2 separate regions of the Homo sapiens genome follow, and region 1 is linked to region 2. The links come from fine-mapping of genetic effects on gene expression. A gene starts in region 2. The other region holds a variant in brackets. All regions are shown on one strand. Distances are between the middles of the regions.

Region 1 (8,096 bases), 850 kb after region 2:
GCCGCCGCGCCTCGGCCTAGCATGTCGGAAGCGGGCGAGGAGCAGCCCATGGAGACGACGGGCGCCACCGAGAACGGACATGAGGCCGTCCCCGAAGGCGAGTCGCCGGCCGGGGCTGGCACGGGCGCCGCGGCGGGGGCTGGAGGCGCGACCGCGGCGCCCCCGAGCGGGAATCAGAACGGCGCCGAGGGCGACCAGATCAACGCCAGCAAGAACGAGGAGGACGCGGGGTAGGTGCGGCCGCGGGCGGACGGGGGCGCCGCCTTTGTTCCGGGGCCGCCTTTTGTTGGCGCCACGCGGCGGGGGGAGGGGCGGCGGCCTGGCCCGGGTCGGGGCTGGTGCGGCCCGCGGACTGTCGCCGCTGCGTTCGCGGGCCGGGCCTGGCGCTGCCACTCGCGCTGGAGTTTGCGGGAGTTTGTTGGGTCGACTTTGGCGCCGCCCCGGGGCCGCTCGCGCGCTGCCAGGGCCAGGGCCAGGGCCGGAGCCGGCGCAGGGGCGGGCGGATGGCCCGGAAGAGGGAAAGCGCTCGGACCCGGGGCCCGGCGGCGTCTTGGGCCGCGCCGGCGGCTGCGTGGGCGGAGTTGGCGCGAGCCGGGGCCCGGACCTCCCTCCTCCGCCTCTCCCGGGGGCGGAGTCACGGTCTGAACCCTGGGCGGGCTTGGTCCCCGGAAACATCGAGTTCCTTGAAACGAGTTCTCAGGAGTTGGTGGAGACGCTGGCCCTTTGCTACATGGTTGTAGAACACATGAATTTCCAGTTATGAGTGGTTAGGTCCCATACCCCTGGTGAGGTGGTCCCTTCTTTGCTTCTCACAGGCTGGGGCTGCAGAGCCTTGTTAAGCCTCGTTAGGGTCCTGGTTGAGTTCAATTTGGAGGGTAGTGGAGATTTAACATCTTTCTAAGGTGCTCCTTGCAGACTCTAAGGGTAGCTGTAGACTTCGTGAGAACTTTGCCAGGGCCAGTCCTTTCCAAAATCACAGCTTGCTTACAAGACTTGTTGCCGTGTGTCTCACCCTACCATTTCAGAAAAATGTTCGTTGGTGGCCTGAGCTGGGATACTAGCAAAAAAGATTTAAAAGACTATTTTACTAAATTTGGAGAGGTCGTTGACTGTACAATAAAAATGGATCCCAACACTGGACGGTCAAGAGGGTTTGGGTTTATCCTGTTCAAAGATGCAGCCAGTGTGGAGAAGGTAAGCTGGGTACTGGATTTCAGCAGTCTCAGTGGAAACGATTTGAATTCTAAGAGGACACCTTTCTTAAAGCATGACTAGTTTGTGTGGTCTGCATGTGATTTAAGTGCTTTGGGCAAAACCCAAAGCCGGAGGTTATGTTCCGGTTTTTGAGGGGATGAAAATACAGATTAAGCTGGGAGTGAGAGAATGTGCTGGAGTGGTTCGGGAAGATGACAGTTGACATTCATTACCTTTTATGTGCCTATTCTGGGTACGGCGCTAAACATCTGGGAGGATTACAAGAGAGTCCATGATTGGTATGATAGGCTTTTAGCCCCATTTTACAGGACAAAAACCAAAACCCTAAGGCTCAGAAATGTAAGTAGAAGAGGTCACAGCTAGTAGGGAGTGGAGGGAGGATTCCTTCCCCTGTGGCCCATCTTCAGCCTATGCTCCGAGTCCCTGCTGCTTCGCTTCTGGAGATGGGCCTCACGCTGGGACTGCTTGGGCAGGAAGAGCATGATCAAAGGCTTAAGTGTGAGGACTGTTTTCTAGGTGTCGAGGTAAACCAGCTGTACTTGAGGTTTGATGAAAATTGGGTTGGGAGGTTAAGCTGGGGTAGAATTTGGAGGGGGTGAAACACATGTTTGTATCTGTACTGGTGTCTTTATGGCTTAGAGAGAAGGGCCTTGTCTGGCTCGTGCTGCTGAGTCAGCCTGACCCCTTTCTGTTGGAACAGGTCCTAGACCAGAAGGAGCACAGGCTGGATGGCCGTGTCATTGACCCTAAAAAGGCCATGGCTATGAAGAAGGACCCGGTGAAGAAAATCTTCGTTGGGGGTCTGAATCCTGAAGCCACTGAGGAAAAGATCAGGGAGTACTTTGGCGAGTTTGGGGAGGTGAGTGTGGCTCTGGGAATAGCCCATCAGCTGCCCCTAAGGCTGCCTTCTTTCTGGTCCTTGGTATCCTTGGCTGGCTAGACCCTCCCAGGCAGGGCTTATTTTTCACCCTCTGTCTTCAATGGGGTCTTTTCTCCTGTGAGTCCCCTATATGCTCTGGGGTAGGGAGGTATTGGGCCTGAGTTTGCCTATGCTTTTTGCAGATTGAGGCCATTGAATTGCCAATGGATCCAAAGTTGAACAAAAGACGAGGTTTTGTGTTTATCACCTTTAAAGAAGAAGAACCCGTGAAGAAGGTTCTGGAGAAAAAGTTCCATACTGTCAGTGGAAGCAAGGTAAGGTGTTCCCAGCTCTGCTTGGCCTCCTGTGCTGCTGGAGAGCTGGCCCTTAGAGGGATGGGTTAGGGGTTGGGCCTCATGCAGGAGCTCTCCAGGTTGGTCAGACTTTACTATTTCTCTGAAGCGTATGCTGCCCTGATTGGGGCAGTGTTCCAATCCTTGAAAGACTTCTCAGGCTGGGAGGACTGCCAATAAACAACACAGGATGTGAGGGAGGTAGGAGAAGGTGGCCTCTGTGAATAGAGCAGGTTGAGTAGCCTCTTTAGCTCCTCACTTAAAGCTAGAGGTGACAGTTCTAGATTCTTGAGTCCAGGGGTATGAAGCCTGCAGTTTAAGGTCTCAGAAGATCCTAGAACTTCTGCAACTCACTGATTCTCCTCTGTGGTGAAGTTTTTCTTATTCCAGAGCCTTTCTACCTCCTTCTACAACCAAGTCTTTGTCCACTTCCATCCACTTTGAGCACTTTTTTTTTTTTTTTTTTTTTTTTGCTTTGAGACAGAGTCTTGCTTTGTTGTCCAGGCTGGGGTGCGGTAACACAATCATGGCTCACTGCAACCTTGACCTCATGGGCGGACCGGATCCTCCCATCTCAGCCTCTCGAGTAGCTGGGACCACAGGCATGTACCACCATGCCTGGCTCATATGTTTTTTTAAAGCCTGGTCTCACCATGTTGCCTGGGCTCAAGCCATCCTCTGCCTTGGCCTTGTAAAGTGTTGGGATTACAGGCATGAACTGCCTCACTTGGTCTTCTGGGCACCTCTTTAAGTTAACCCTAAACCCAGGCAAAAATCCTTCCAAAGATCTCCCAGGGTCCTGGCCAGCTTAAATCCAGGGTCAGTTGTGCTTTCAAATGAGTGGATTCATGTGCAGGGAGGTGTAGCTCTTCCCCTCCTGAACTCTGGTCAGGGAAAGGGTAGTTCAGGCTTCAAGTTGGCAGTTGGGAGTTGAGGGTGCGGCCTGCAGTGGCAGGGTGTGGCAGGTTCTGTTTCTGAGCAGGAGTTGGCAGCCAGATAAGGTGGGACAGGTGGAACTCCTGGAAGTCTCTATCCTGGCTGGGAGTTTGGAAAGAGTGGATTAGGATAGTCTTAAATTTTCTATAAAATGACAGTCTTTGAGGCAGTTAGGGGAAGCAGTGGTTATTACTCCAGTGGACAGTGATAGAGGCCTTTTTCTCTATGTGCCATAATGGGAAATGGGTGGGAAGAGCCTCTAAGGCAGAGTTTAAGTGAAACTACTGGTAGTGAGTCTTAGGAGTAAGTATATTTAGTTGGTTATATTCAGTATTTTTAATTTAGTAGGATAGAATATATCAGATTGCATTATTTTAATTTGCCAATTAAAAGTATGACTGGGACACTGTAAAATGTACTATTTTTAATGGGTGTGCATGTCAGGATTTTCTTTAGAAATACACTGGTCTGGTCTAATTTATTTAAGCAGGAGCACTTTAAAGTATCCCACCCTACCCCATTCCACCCCCAGTGGACAGAAAGGAAATTGACTGACTTGAGGGGATGCAGACATCTGGGTTATTCCAACAGACCAGTGGTTAGGAGGAGGGGGTGGGTAGCATTATGGCCTCGGGCAGGCCCCCCCACCCTGAGCCTCTGAAAGCTGACTTTATCTGTAAGAGGGAGGTCAGGCTCGCCTTCTCAATAGCGTGTATTTGGATGAGATGAGTTTCTTCTGTAAAGAGAAAAAGATGTTAAAACCTCATTGTCTAAGGCCCCTCATCTGAGAAGTCTTGTCTGACCCTCTAGCCCAGCAGGACCAAGGTGTGGTGCCTGGTCCCAGCCTGTCCTCTGCTCCCCTGGGCTGCAGTTGGCCCAGTTGCCTGCCTCCATTAGATACGGAGTTGCTCTGGGGCTGAGATGCCCATCTCAAGTGCATTCTGTCGGAAGGGTTCTCTGCTGGAAGGCCTTTGGTTTTAGTTGGGATTCCATGAGCTTTAGCCCAAAGGTGGCCTCCCATACTAGCATATTTTGTTTCTCAGCAAATGGACCTGATCCACCATTTGATGTTTGTCGCAGTGAAGGTGTTTGGGCAGTCACTGCCCTGAGTTTGTCCTACTGGCCTGACCACTGTCCTCTTGACTTTTAGTGTGAGATCAAGGTGGCCCAGCCCAAAGAAGTCTATCAGCAGCAGCAGTATGGCTCTGGGGGCCGTGGAAACCGCAACCGAGGGAACCGAGGCAGCGGAGGTGGTGGTGGAGGTGGAGGTGAGTGGAACGTGGATGAAGATAGGT[C/A]CTGTTTCCCTGCCTACATGGAGCCTTCCAAGCCTGTCTTGGGGCTCCCTCTGGTGCTGTGCAGCAGGGGTGGGCAGATTGTGTGAGGTTGGGGACGAACAGGAATAGGAACGGCTCTGGGTCAGGGCTGTATGCTTGAGGCTGTTGCCTGCTGCTGCCCCTTGGAATGGCTTGGGTGCCCAGGGCAGAGAGAGCATTTGTGTTACACTCTGGGGGAGGGGATGTGATGGGTGTCTTGGCTTTGTGGATGTCCTGAGTCTGGTACACCTGTGAGCAGGTAGGCAGAAGGGTGGGTAGGGCAGAGCTGTGCCAGGCATTTATCCCCTTCCATCCCAGGCCCCTCTGACTCCAAAGCCTGAACTGCATCTTTTTAAAGGCTAAGCTGCCAAGGAGAGTGGGAGTGATCAGAGAGTGACTGAGTGAGTGAGCTGCCTTGTTTGCCCCAAGTAAAGTTAGCATCCTGGTCTCTGATCCTCTGCTTGGGTCTCTCAGATGCAGGGTTGGGCCCAGGGCCCTTATACACCAGAACAGCAGCCCCTTGGCTTCTGCCTGAGTTGCCACAGTAACCCTGCCACCCCAAAGGGCAGGATTTCCTCCATCCTAGCTCCTGCGTATGCTAAATGGTCCACGGGCCCCTGTGCCCTGCTCCCCCCACAGGTCAGAGTCAGAGTTGGAATCAGGGCTACGGCAACTACTGGAACCAGGGCTACGGCTACCAGCAGGGCTACGGGCCTGGCTATGGCGGCTACGACTACTCGCCCTATGGCTATTACGGCTACGGCCCCGGCTACGACTACAGTAAGTAGGAGAGAGGGAGGCCCCATCCGCTCACCCCTCGTCCCCAGGGGAGGCAGGACAGTGTAGGAGCCACTGGCAGCAGGGGCTTTGGAGTCAGACAGGCCTGGCTCAGCCATGGGAGCTACTTGATTTTGAGCCTTAGACTTCGGGGTCTTAATAACATGAGGAAGGCAGTCTCTGCTGTCACGGCTGGTGAGGGTCCTGGGAAGATGCATATCAAGCGCGTGGCACAGGGCAAATGCTTGTAAATAGTAGCTGCTATGGTTGTTCTCGTCCCTAGGTCAGGGTAGTACAAACTACGGCAAGAGCCAGCGACGTGGTGGCCATCAGAATAACTACAAGCCATACTGAGGCGGCAGCAGGAGCGACCAACTGATCGCACACATGCTTTGTTTGGATATGGAGTGAACACAATTATGTACCAAATTTAACTTGGCAAACTTTCTATTGCCTGTCCCATGTGCATCTTATTTAAAATTTCCCCCATGGAAATCACTCTCCTGTTGACTATTTCCAGAGCTCTAGGTGTTTAGGCAGCGTGTGGTGTCTGAGAGGCCATAGCGCCATCATGGGCTGATTTTTATTACCAGGTCCCCCAGAAGCAGGTGGGAGGCTCTGCTTCCTGCTGCCGCTCTGCAGCCTGGACCTGTGGACCCTGGTTGTAAAGAGTAAATTGTATCTTAGGAAACCAGTGTCACCTTTTTTTCACCTTTTAATTTTATATTATTTGCGTCATACATTTCCTGTAACGGAAGTGTTAATTTTACTGTACTTTTTGGTACCTTTTGGGAATCTAATGTATTGTAAGGTATTTTACACGTGTCCTGATTTTGCCACAACCTGGATATTGAAGCTATCCAAGCTTTTGAAATAAAATTTAAAAACCCCCAAGCCTGGGTGAGTGTGGGATATGCTGTGTGAGACCTCTTGCTCAGGGTCGAGGGAGGCGGGGGGGGGGTGCCAGGTGCCCTGGACTTGGGGCTTTCTCCTGCAGCAGGCTCTTCCAGCTGCAGGCCCAGTTGTGGGGGTATCCTTTAAGGACTGCCCTGCCTAGGGCTGAGCCCCCCTTCAAAGAAAGGAATGAGAGGCCTATGGGGAGTGAGGATGGGGCAGTGATGAGGGCTTACATCCCCAGCAGGCATGTCCCCTCCTGGGACACCTTGGAACACCAACCTTCTTGGCTGATGAATGAAAAAATGGGATTCTTTACACACTAGGGCAGTGCCAGGGCCGTCTGAATTGGGGCACAATAGTGCTCCTCCTGGCTGGTGAAGAAAAGCCTGCTCTGGCAGGGGATGTTTATTGGCTGGATTGGAGCCCAACTCCAGGTCTGGTATTTAGGGCATAAGACTAGGTGGTTACAAGAGGCAAGGGTGGGTTGGGGTTCCACGTGGATACAGCCCCATAGGTTTCAAGGGAGGATATAGCTGTTCCTGCCATCAAGTGCAAGCTAAGCATTGGAGAATTTCCAGTGTTGAAGAAACTAACCTTTGGGAAGGAGCATCAGTCAGAACAAAAAAAAGTCTTAAAAAAAGGCTCAGCTTGCCGAGGCTGCTTGCTGCTGATGGTAAGGAACCCGCTGTGCATCTTCAAGAGTAAGAAGCAAGGCCCACTCACCTGGAGTACACTTAGGCAGAGCAGGGCTGGCTTAGGGCTGGAGCCTCAGCGTTTCACAACTTCTCACCTTCTCTTCCATGTCTGAAAAAGACCACAAAGCAATGCCGACTCAGTCACCTTTCTCTGCTGAAGATGCCCTGTTGACTTCAGTGTCCAAACTGGAGGACAGTTTAGAGATTGGGCCCTCTGGCTATCCACACCCATGTCCCATTCCCCAAAGGGGTGGCAGCAGTTTCCTGAAAAACAAAGCCAGCCCTCAGTTCTCCTGAGATTTGTAGGCTCTGTCCAGGATCCCTAAGCCTGTTCTGTGGCCAGCCTTTGCTCTCCACAAACACACTCCTATTCATCATATCCCTACCACTTCCAATTTGTGTCTAGCAGGGATGGGCCTCCCCCAGCTCCAGAGCCCTGGGATTAAGCATACCTGTGGGTAGCAGTGATCACCCAGAGGTAGGAGGGCACAGGTTGCTTGGCTGGCAGTTGTGATCTCTACTGTGAGATGCAACTGTGCCTATTTAGGGTCTCACTGAGCTGTAAATGGCAACACAGCCATGAGATTTCCTTGTAAGTGGATTTAGGGGGAACCCTGGGTTGACCACGACCATCCTAGGTGATGGGGAATGTGGGGTAGAGTTTTCATTTTGAGTTCCGTCAGTCCTCAGTGGTACCAATCTTTCAGCCACCCAGCAGCCTTGTGTGACCTGTCTCATGTACAGAATGAAACTCCTGCCATCTCTACATCCTAGGCTGGCGGTAATGGGGTCTCAACTCCCACTGTAGTTCTTATGGCCTGTTTCTCAGGCCCAGTACTGCTTTGTCCTGCATACATCTGATGCCTGCTCAGGCAGGCTGGGTGGTGGCTCACCTTCCACCTCCTGACAGCCCAGGAAGCTCTCTTAGGTACAGGCAGGAATAGGAGCAGATTGGGCCATGAAAGACCCTCTCTTGCTCCCTGCCCTGTCCAGAGGACATGTGCCTCTGCTCTTGGACTCTTGTCCCCTCCCTGTTCCATGCTAGGAGGCT
Region 2 (8,096 bases):
CAGAACTCAATGGGATATTTCTAAGCATGGGAGTGACCAATGTGGATTCCTCTAGCTATGGTGAGGAGAAGAGATTGGAGCGGGGATAATAGGGAGACTGGATTCATCATGATCGGGGGAGAGAGGGTGAGGCCTAAGCCAAGGAGGTCTTCACAGAGAAGAAGGATCTGAAGTCCCAGCCAGAGACTAAATCAGGAACTGATGCCCTGTGGGCAGCCAGGAAGGGAGAAGTCGAGGATGGTGCTTTGTGGGTGGAGGTACTCCACCACTCTCATGGCATGGAGAAGACTAGATAAGGGCTAAGAGATGGGAACAGCCAGGGCTAGCTGTGGTGAAGATGTGGTCAGAGCTAGAACTGGCATCCATGGTGGAGAGAAGGGAAGAGGTGTCTCTGCAGGAGAGTATGAACTTCAAAGGGAGTCCCAGGCAGAGACTGTGACTGTCCTTTGGCAGGAAGAAGATGAGCTGTGGGCATCTGTGGTGGCCAAAGCCCAGTTCCAGGCACCCCAAGCACACTCACAGCTTAGCAGATCTCTAAGAGGATGTATAGCCTTGGGCAACTCACTTCTCTCTGAGCCTCAGTTTCCTGATCTGTGAAATGGTAATAATAAGCACCATTCACAAAGTGGTTGTGAGGACTAGGACTGTAAAGCCACCTAGGAAATGGCCCAGATCCATGGCACAGCAGACAGGAAGTCTTCACCCATATCACACACCCTACAACCCCCACAGGCACATTGAAACAGTCACACACCTTATTAAGACCACCATTGGCAATGGTCCAGGCCCAAAAGCAACCTCCACCGTAACCCCTTTCACACATCAAGTCTGACTGAATCTCTCTGTCTGTGTGGCCTGAAGCAAGGTGTCTGGAGAGAGGTGAGGCAGTGCTGGGAGAAGAAGTGTGTTAACTAGGGCAGTGCTAGCTGCTATAACAAATAGGCCCTAATGTATATAATGACCTGAAAATTTTTTTGATGTTTCTTTTTTTTTTAACTATTTTTACAAGGTTTGTGCATCTGTCAGGAGGCTCAAAAAATTTTACTTCCCACTTACATAATGGTCTGAAGCTGGTTTCCAGGTTGATGGGTGGCTTGCCTTCAGGCACTGATACACAGACCCTGCTTTTTCCTTCTTGTGGTTCCACAATCCCCTGGGCCTCCTCATCTTCTCTATCCATCCAGCTGAAGGAGAAAGAGGGAGGGTGCAGGGCACACACTTACTTCTTCAAAGCCTTGGCTCAAAAATGACACATGTCATCCCACACATTTTCAATTGGCAAGAAGTGGTCACATGTCCACATCTGACTGCAAGGGAACCTGGGAAAGTAAAGTTAGCCACGTGCCCAGGAAAAAAGGACATGAATTTGTGGTGAAGAGCTATTCAGTTTCTGCCACTGAAGAGTTCAGGTCACAGCCCTAGAAGGGGCAGTGGGGCAGAGGGTAGAATATGGAGAAGTGGCTATCACCTTGTCCCTGCAGAAAGACTAGCTGAGGCTGGACACGATGGCTCACACTTGTAATCCCAGCACTTTGGGAGGCTAAGGTGGGTGGATTGCTTGAGCCCAGGAGTTTGAGACCAGTCTGGGCAACATAGGAGACATCTCTACAAAAAAAAAAATTACACAGTCACGTTGACATGCACCTGTGGTCCCAGCTACTTGGAAGGCTGAGGTGGGAGGATTGCTTGAGCCCAGGAGGTCAGGGCTGCAGTGAGCCTAGATCCTGCCACTACACTCCAGCCTGGGTGAGTAACAGAGCAGGACTCTGTCTCAAAAAAAAAAAAAAAAAAGTAAAGAAAAGAAAAGAAAGAAAAAGAGAGAAAGAGGAGCTCAAATCAGAATGGTGGGCAAGTTGAGGGGTCTTAGTGAGCCCACGCTTAGAAGAAAATATAAGTCCTTGCAGTGGGGACACGCATGTGTGAGAAAGAGGCAAACCAAGGACCCTAGCTAAAATTTTTAAAACTGGAGTTCATCTGGGGCCAGGTCAGGGCCGAGGGCAGGATGCCCACCCTTCAGCCAACACTACATGCTATCAAATTAAGTTTATATCCCCCAAAATTCATACGTTGAAACACTAACCTGCAAGGTGTTATTTGGAGACAGGGCCTTTGAGAGGTAATTGGGTCATGAAAGAGAACCCCTTAGGGTGGGATTAGGAATTAGTGCCCTTATAAAAAGAGACAGGAGGGAGCTGGCTTCCTTTATCTCCACTTGCTATCGTGAGGGCATGGCAAAAAGACAGCTGTCTGCAAACCAGGAAGAGGGCCCTCTCTAGATACCAGATGTGCCAGCGGCTTGCCCTTGGACATCTCAGCCTCCAGAAGTGTGAGAAATACTTATTTGTTGTTTAACCCACCTGGTCTATGGTATTTTTGCTATAGCAGCCTGAGTTGACTAAGGCAGGATTTCTGAGTGAGTATGAATGCGCTCAAGTCTTTGGCCACAGATATAGGTGATCCAGTCCCCTACCTAGGTAGGTGAGCGTGTGCATCATATCTGCTTACACATATGTCACTGGAGTGTCGGAATACATATGTCCTATGTTCAGGTGTGCCTGTCACATGCACCTCTTCAGGGGACTGTGCATGCACATGACTATACACCCAAGTCCCCCTTGTAAGGGAGAGCCCATGTGTTTATGACACGCATACCTGAATGTCTGTGTGTGCACAGCCATGCGGGCAAGTTATCCATCTGTCTGCACACCTGGCCACATGCATGGAAGGAGCCTGTAGGTGTCTGGGGCTAGAGGTACCCTGCATATGTGCAGCTGCCGGGGAGAGGGGTACTGAGCACATGTTTGTCTGGCACACAGTAGGTATGAGGTAAGTGTGTGCCGAGTAAAGTACACGTGTGGATACACAGGTCCCAGTGCACGTGTGTGCATGTCCACAGGAACGCCCCCAGGGTGGACAAAGGTGCCTAGGTATGTTTACTCGTGTGCTGTGAGCCCAGGCATGAACTTAGAGCTCCCTGGTCCTGGCCAGACCAGGCTGGGCTCCTTGCTGGGCACACGGAAGCCTCTGCCTTGTGTTGGTGCCCGTGCGGGATGCTGCCAGGAGTGTGTTGGTGGCGTGTGTGTGCGTGAACGTGTGTGTGTGTGCGCGTGTGTGTGTAGGAAGAGGCGTTCGCTCTCTTAGACCTTGCTTCTTTCTGTGGTTTGGTTTCTATAGAGACACTTCCTGTGGCAGAGAAAAGAGGTAGTGAGCGGTGTTTCAGGATGTGAGGGCCCGCAGGAGCCGAGTCAGGCTCTCTCCACTGCCTGCCCGCCACCGTGCAAGCTCTGGCCGGCGCTGCCCACAGTCCCCATGGTGGGCAGCCCCCGCGGCGGGGACCCCTGATCGGCAGCGGCATGCCAGGGAAGCCCAAGCACCTGGGCGTCCCCAACGGGCGCATGGTGAGTGTGGGCTCCGGGCCAGGGCCACGAGGAGGGGGTGGGCACACCCAGGGTGGAGCCCAGGAGGCACACCCGGCAGGGCCAGGCAAGAGCCCACGGGCTGCCAGCAGGCGAGAGAAGTTGGGTACAGACAGCAGCAGGTGGTAGGACCTGGTGCTCTCACCCCTAGACCCTTCCAGATGGCCCAGCCGGGAGCCTGGTACAACCCTGGCAGTGAGGCCAGAGCGGGCACAGGCTTCTGGTCCAGCCCCCACCACTCCCTCACCTGCTGCATCTGGGGCTGCATCCCAGGGTCTCAGGGACACTCGATGTGCTCCTTGCCCCCTGCCCATCCCCACAGTGGCTCAAGCCCCTACATCCCGCTCAGCCTGAGTCCTCCCCTCCTCACCCCCTGCTCCAGGTGCCCAAGGTCATGTTAGTGGCAGCTCTTGCTGGGTCGGTGTCCTCCAGCCGGAGCTACTCCAGAGGCTTCCTGCCAGAACTAGCATTGTTTGGGCAGCCCGGGATGGGGCAGCAGGGTCAGACTAGGTTGATGCAGCTTCTGCCTGTTCTATTCCTGAGCTTCCAGGAAGGGCTGAGCACTAAGATCCCCCTGGCTGCAGCTGCCCCACCCCTTAACCCTCTCCCTGGCTGCTTAGCCCCAGATCAGAGCTGCCCTCAGAGGATCTGGCTCTTCTCATTCATTCAGCAGATGGGGCAAGCTGTGCTGGGCCTCCCTTCTCTCCCTAGGGTTCCCCCCTCACTTGGAAGAGTCCCTCTTAACAACCTCAGGAAGGCCAGTGTCCTGGCCCACCACCAGGCCCCAGCCTAGTATCACGGGCCAAAGCCAGTGGCTCTATAGAGACCTGGGTTCCAGTCCTGGTTCTATTCTCTCTTACTGGAGGGAGGGTCCTCGCCAGCTCTCAGTTTCCTCATCCCTAAAATGAGGAGGTTGGAATGAATTTCAAGGCTTGTTGAGATGATAGAGTGAAATAATGCATATGAGGCCTTTGACCCATTGTGGGGGCTGCATAATTGTCAGCCCAGTGCCCCCTACATTTTCAGCCCCAATTCAAAGATCTCCTGCCTCACCAAGAAGCTGAGGCAGCCCCATCACCACTCCTGCCCCTTAGTTCCCAAAACCTGCCTCTACCTCTTCTTCTTCCAGCATCTCTTTCCTGCCCAGCCCCGGGCTGGCCGGCTGGGAGAGAGGCCACCCTTCAAAGCCAGCTCAGCCCCCCATCTCACTGTCTGCAGTACCGACCCCACAACGAAAGTGCAAAAAGAAAACCCACCTCCCTTGCATTCCCATGTCACAGGCATGACACTTCGCTCGTCCTTGCCTAGGCGACCGGGCCAGGAAGCCAAGGAGGCTAACCCCAGGCCCACCCTGGGAGGGCAACTGGATTGATGCTTCTGGGACAGTGCCTAGAACTACAGGGCAGCAGAGGGGGCCCAGAGACAGACCCAGCCCCTGCCCCTTCTGTGTCAGCCTGTGACTTCTCTACTCAAAAGTCACCTAGAGCAGGGAGGGTGCCCCAAGGTCTGCCCCCAGTTCCATCAAGCCCACAGACGCCCCGGCTCCTCTCAGAACTGTCACACACAGGTTTATCTTTGCCCTTCCTGGGCCTGTTCCAAACTCTCTGTGCCACCTCTTAGAATCCCGAGGGTCACAGATTGGCTGCCTGCTGGTCACTGAGTAGCTTCCCGTGGCCCTGCACAGCTAGGGCAGGGAGGGCCAGACAGGCACTGGGATCTGAGGTGCGGATGTGGATGGAGGGGCGCCTGGGGGACAGGTATGTCTGGTCCCTCCATGAGTTACCTCCCAAGGGAGGCTCAGAGAAGTAAATGCTGTGCCGAGGTCAGCCAGAGAGTAGAGCGTCAGCATCTGAACCCCCAGAACTGCCTGGCCCCAGTCCTCCCCTACCTCTCCTCTCACCACCATCATTCCCTGCTGTGGAAGCTTCAGTTGTCAGCCTTGCCTCTCTGCCATTCAGCTTGTCAGGCAGTTGCAAGGAAACCTGTCACTTGGAGACATCTCCCAGCCCCCTTCCTAGGGATGTCTTCACACAGCCTCTTTACCTTTTCATTTGTTCATGTACTTATTCACTCATTCATTCAACAACCCCTCCTTAGTGCCTGCTTGGTGCTGCCACTGCCCCTATCCTAGACACTCCCGACCCAGGCCCATCAGCCCTAGTCCCTGCCCCCTAGTCTGGCAAGGCACAAAAGACACAGGTGAAAATACCAGGCAGTGGCTCAAGCCTGGAATCCCAGCACTTTGGAAGGCCAATGCAGGAGGATCGCTTGAGCCCAGGAGTTTGAGACCAGCCTGGGCAACATAGTGAGGACCCATCTTCTTTTTAATTAGCTGGGCATGGTGGTATGCACCTGTAGTCCCAGCTACTGGGAAACTGAGGTGGGAGGATCGTTTGACCCCAGGAGGTAAAGGCTGCAGTGAGCTGTGATCACACTCAGACTGCACTGCAGTCTGGGTGAAAGAGCAAGATCCTATATTAAAAAAAAAAAAAAAAAAAAAAAAGATGGAAGGAAGGGAGGGAGGGAGGGAAGGAGGGAGAGAGGAGGCAGGCACAGTTGCTCACGCCTCTAATCCCAGCACTTTAGGAGGCCGAGGCGGGCAGATCATGAGGCCAAGAGATCGAGACCATCCTGGCCAATATGGTGAAACCCCTTCTCTACTAAAGATACAAAAAATTAGCTGGGCGTGGTGGTATGTGCCTGTAGTCCCAGCTACTTGGGAGGCTAAGGCAGGAGAATTGCTTGAACCTGGGAGGCAGAGGTTGCAGTGAGCCGAGTTCGTGCTACTGCACTCCAGCCTGGCGACAGAGCAAGACTCTCCACTAGCTCCATGCACCGTGTTGTAGGAGACGGTCCCTAAAGGGTCTGCAAGCTGGAGGAGGGAGGGCACGGCATAGGCCTGGCTGTGGGCAAACACAGGGACAGGGCCCTAGGGGAGGCTGAGAGTTAAGCCTGGAGGGGCAGTTAGCCTGTCCTGTCCTGTCAGAGGGCCTAGTTAGTCTTCCCCTCCTGGCAGGAAGACCTGCAAGGCAAAGCCCATGCAGCTCTCTCTTTGTCCCTCGCGTCCAGCTCAGGGCACTCGAGTTCAGGGTGGCCTTATACAGGGGCAAGGCCAGGGGTCATCTCCACAGGCTGGTTCAAGTTGAAGGGACCAGACACCCAGATTCTGTGTGGACATCTCCAGACAGGGTCTTGCAGCCCCTCAAGCTAGGATGAAATCCTCAAGAGGATGGTAGAGGGTGCCCAGCATAGAAGATGCTCAGAAAATTGGCCCTCCTTCAAGGTCTGATCCCTCTAGAGGGCACAGTTCAAGAGGAGCCCCTGAGCAGGTCATGCCAGATTAGACTTGCCCACCTGTGCCCCAAGGGCTGAGGCCCTGGGCCTCCAAGCTTCCTTGGTCCACAAAGGGAGTCAGCTTGGGTAGAGGGTGGGGAGGCCTCAGGCTCCAGAATCAGGCAAACTTGAGTTCTAATCTCAGTTCTGCCACATCTCAGCTGCATGGCTTCTTTGGGCCTCAGTTTCCTCATCTGTAAAATGGGGGTAATAATACCTGCCACACAAGATACCCGTAAAGATGGAGGGAGGACATGAATGTGTGCTGCCAGAGGGTGCCTGCCACACAGTCAAAGCTCAGGAAATTGGGGCCTTACTCTCACCTTAGCATTTTCAGGTGCCAGCAGCTCCCCCAGGACCAAATTCCTAAGAAAAAAATATGACCGGCCGAGGTCCAAGCCTGGGTCCGTGTGTCACTGGCCACCACACCCTTCCTTGCCCTTTCTTCCCCTTTTTCTCCATTCACTCACCACTTCTTCTCAAGCAGGCTGAAGCAGGGGAGGCCAGCCCTGCTCAACACAACTTCCCCAGGCCCTGCAGTGGCAGCCAGGGCAGGCCAGAGCCCCTGCAGGGCCCCTGCACACCTGCACCTCACTCCGCTGTGGGGTGCTGCTCTGATTGTGGCATGCCTGGTGCTTTCACTCATGGGGCCTCATTCAAGCTTCACAGCAGCCTCAGGAAATTGGGAGTGCTGAGCCCCATGCTACCCAGGGAAAACTGAAGCTCAGAGAAGTTACTTGTTCCCGAATAGCAGAGCTGGAATTGGATTCCACCCCCACTCCCACCCATCTCCAGATTTCTGTCCCTACTCAATTTCAGCTCCAGCTATGCTATCAACAACTGTCAGGGCAAGAGAGGCTCAGGATGGAGAGCTACAGGTGGCATTCAGGGGCTGAGAGTCCCTAGTGAAGGGGTGCCAAGGCCAGGGTCCTGATGGCTGCTTGGGAGCACGAGGCAAAGACGGTGCTTCTTGAGGAGGGAGTTCAGATCTGACCCCTCCCACCAACCAGGCCAGCACTCCAGGGGTGACCAGACTGGCAGGGAGAGAGGCCGGGACATGGGTGGATAAGCACGTGGTGGGAAGGGGCATTCAAGGGGCCTGGTGTTTGGGGACGACTAATGTCAACGGGCAGAGATCGGGGAGCAATTCCAAGCGAAGAGCAGGAGCAGATACCCAGGCACTGGCAATGGCAAAGCCGGAAGCAGGGGTGTGGGGAAAATAGAAAAGTTCGGTGAAGTGTAGGGTGGAGGTGAGGGGGAGGAAAATGGGTGAGGCTGAAGGGGGTTCATTAGTCAGGCCCAGGTAGGGTTTTAGCCGTAACCTGGCAACCGCAACGTGCCTCCGGG

What was found. PIP is the estimated chance that this variant, and not a neighbour inherited with it, causes the effect.
Region 1: its variant is fine-mapped to the expression of RGS14 in minor salivary gland (GTEx, PIP above 0.99).

Annotation. Positions count from the first base shown.
Region 1 is chr5:178,204,817-178,212,912 of GRCh38, forward strand. HNRNPAB (heterogeneous nuclear ribonucleoprotein A/B) reads left to right here. Exons shown (of 8, transcript NM_031266.3): 2 at 1-230; 3 at 1,026-1,194; 4 at 1,916-2,074; 5 at 2,278-2,409; 6 at 4,514-4,631; 7 at 5,316-5,456; 8 at 5,737-6,347. The coding sequence starts at 22. The coding sequence ends at 5,807. It overlaps PHYKPL (5-phosphohydroxy-L-lysine phospho-lyase), which reads right to left. Exons shown (of 13, transcript NM_153373.4): 12 at 7,074-7,154; 13 at 3,655-4,099. The coding sequence ends at 7,105. Among named protein-coding and RNA genes, the nearest start is that of HNRNPAB, 4.3 kb to the left of the region's middle. RefSeq lists silencers at 1-120, 141-250, 281-690. The variant C/A (reference allele first, on the strand shown) is at 4,659.
Region 2 is chr5:177,354,672-177,362,767 of GRCh38, forward strand. RGS14 (regulator of G protein signaling 14) reads left to right here and starts at 3,253. Exons shown (of 15, transcript NM_006480.5): 1 at 3,253-3,398. The coding sequence starts at 3,354. RefSeq lists enhancers at 3,127-3,176, 3,305-3,805, 7,229-7,378 and a silencer at 3,277-3,506.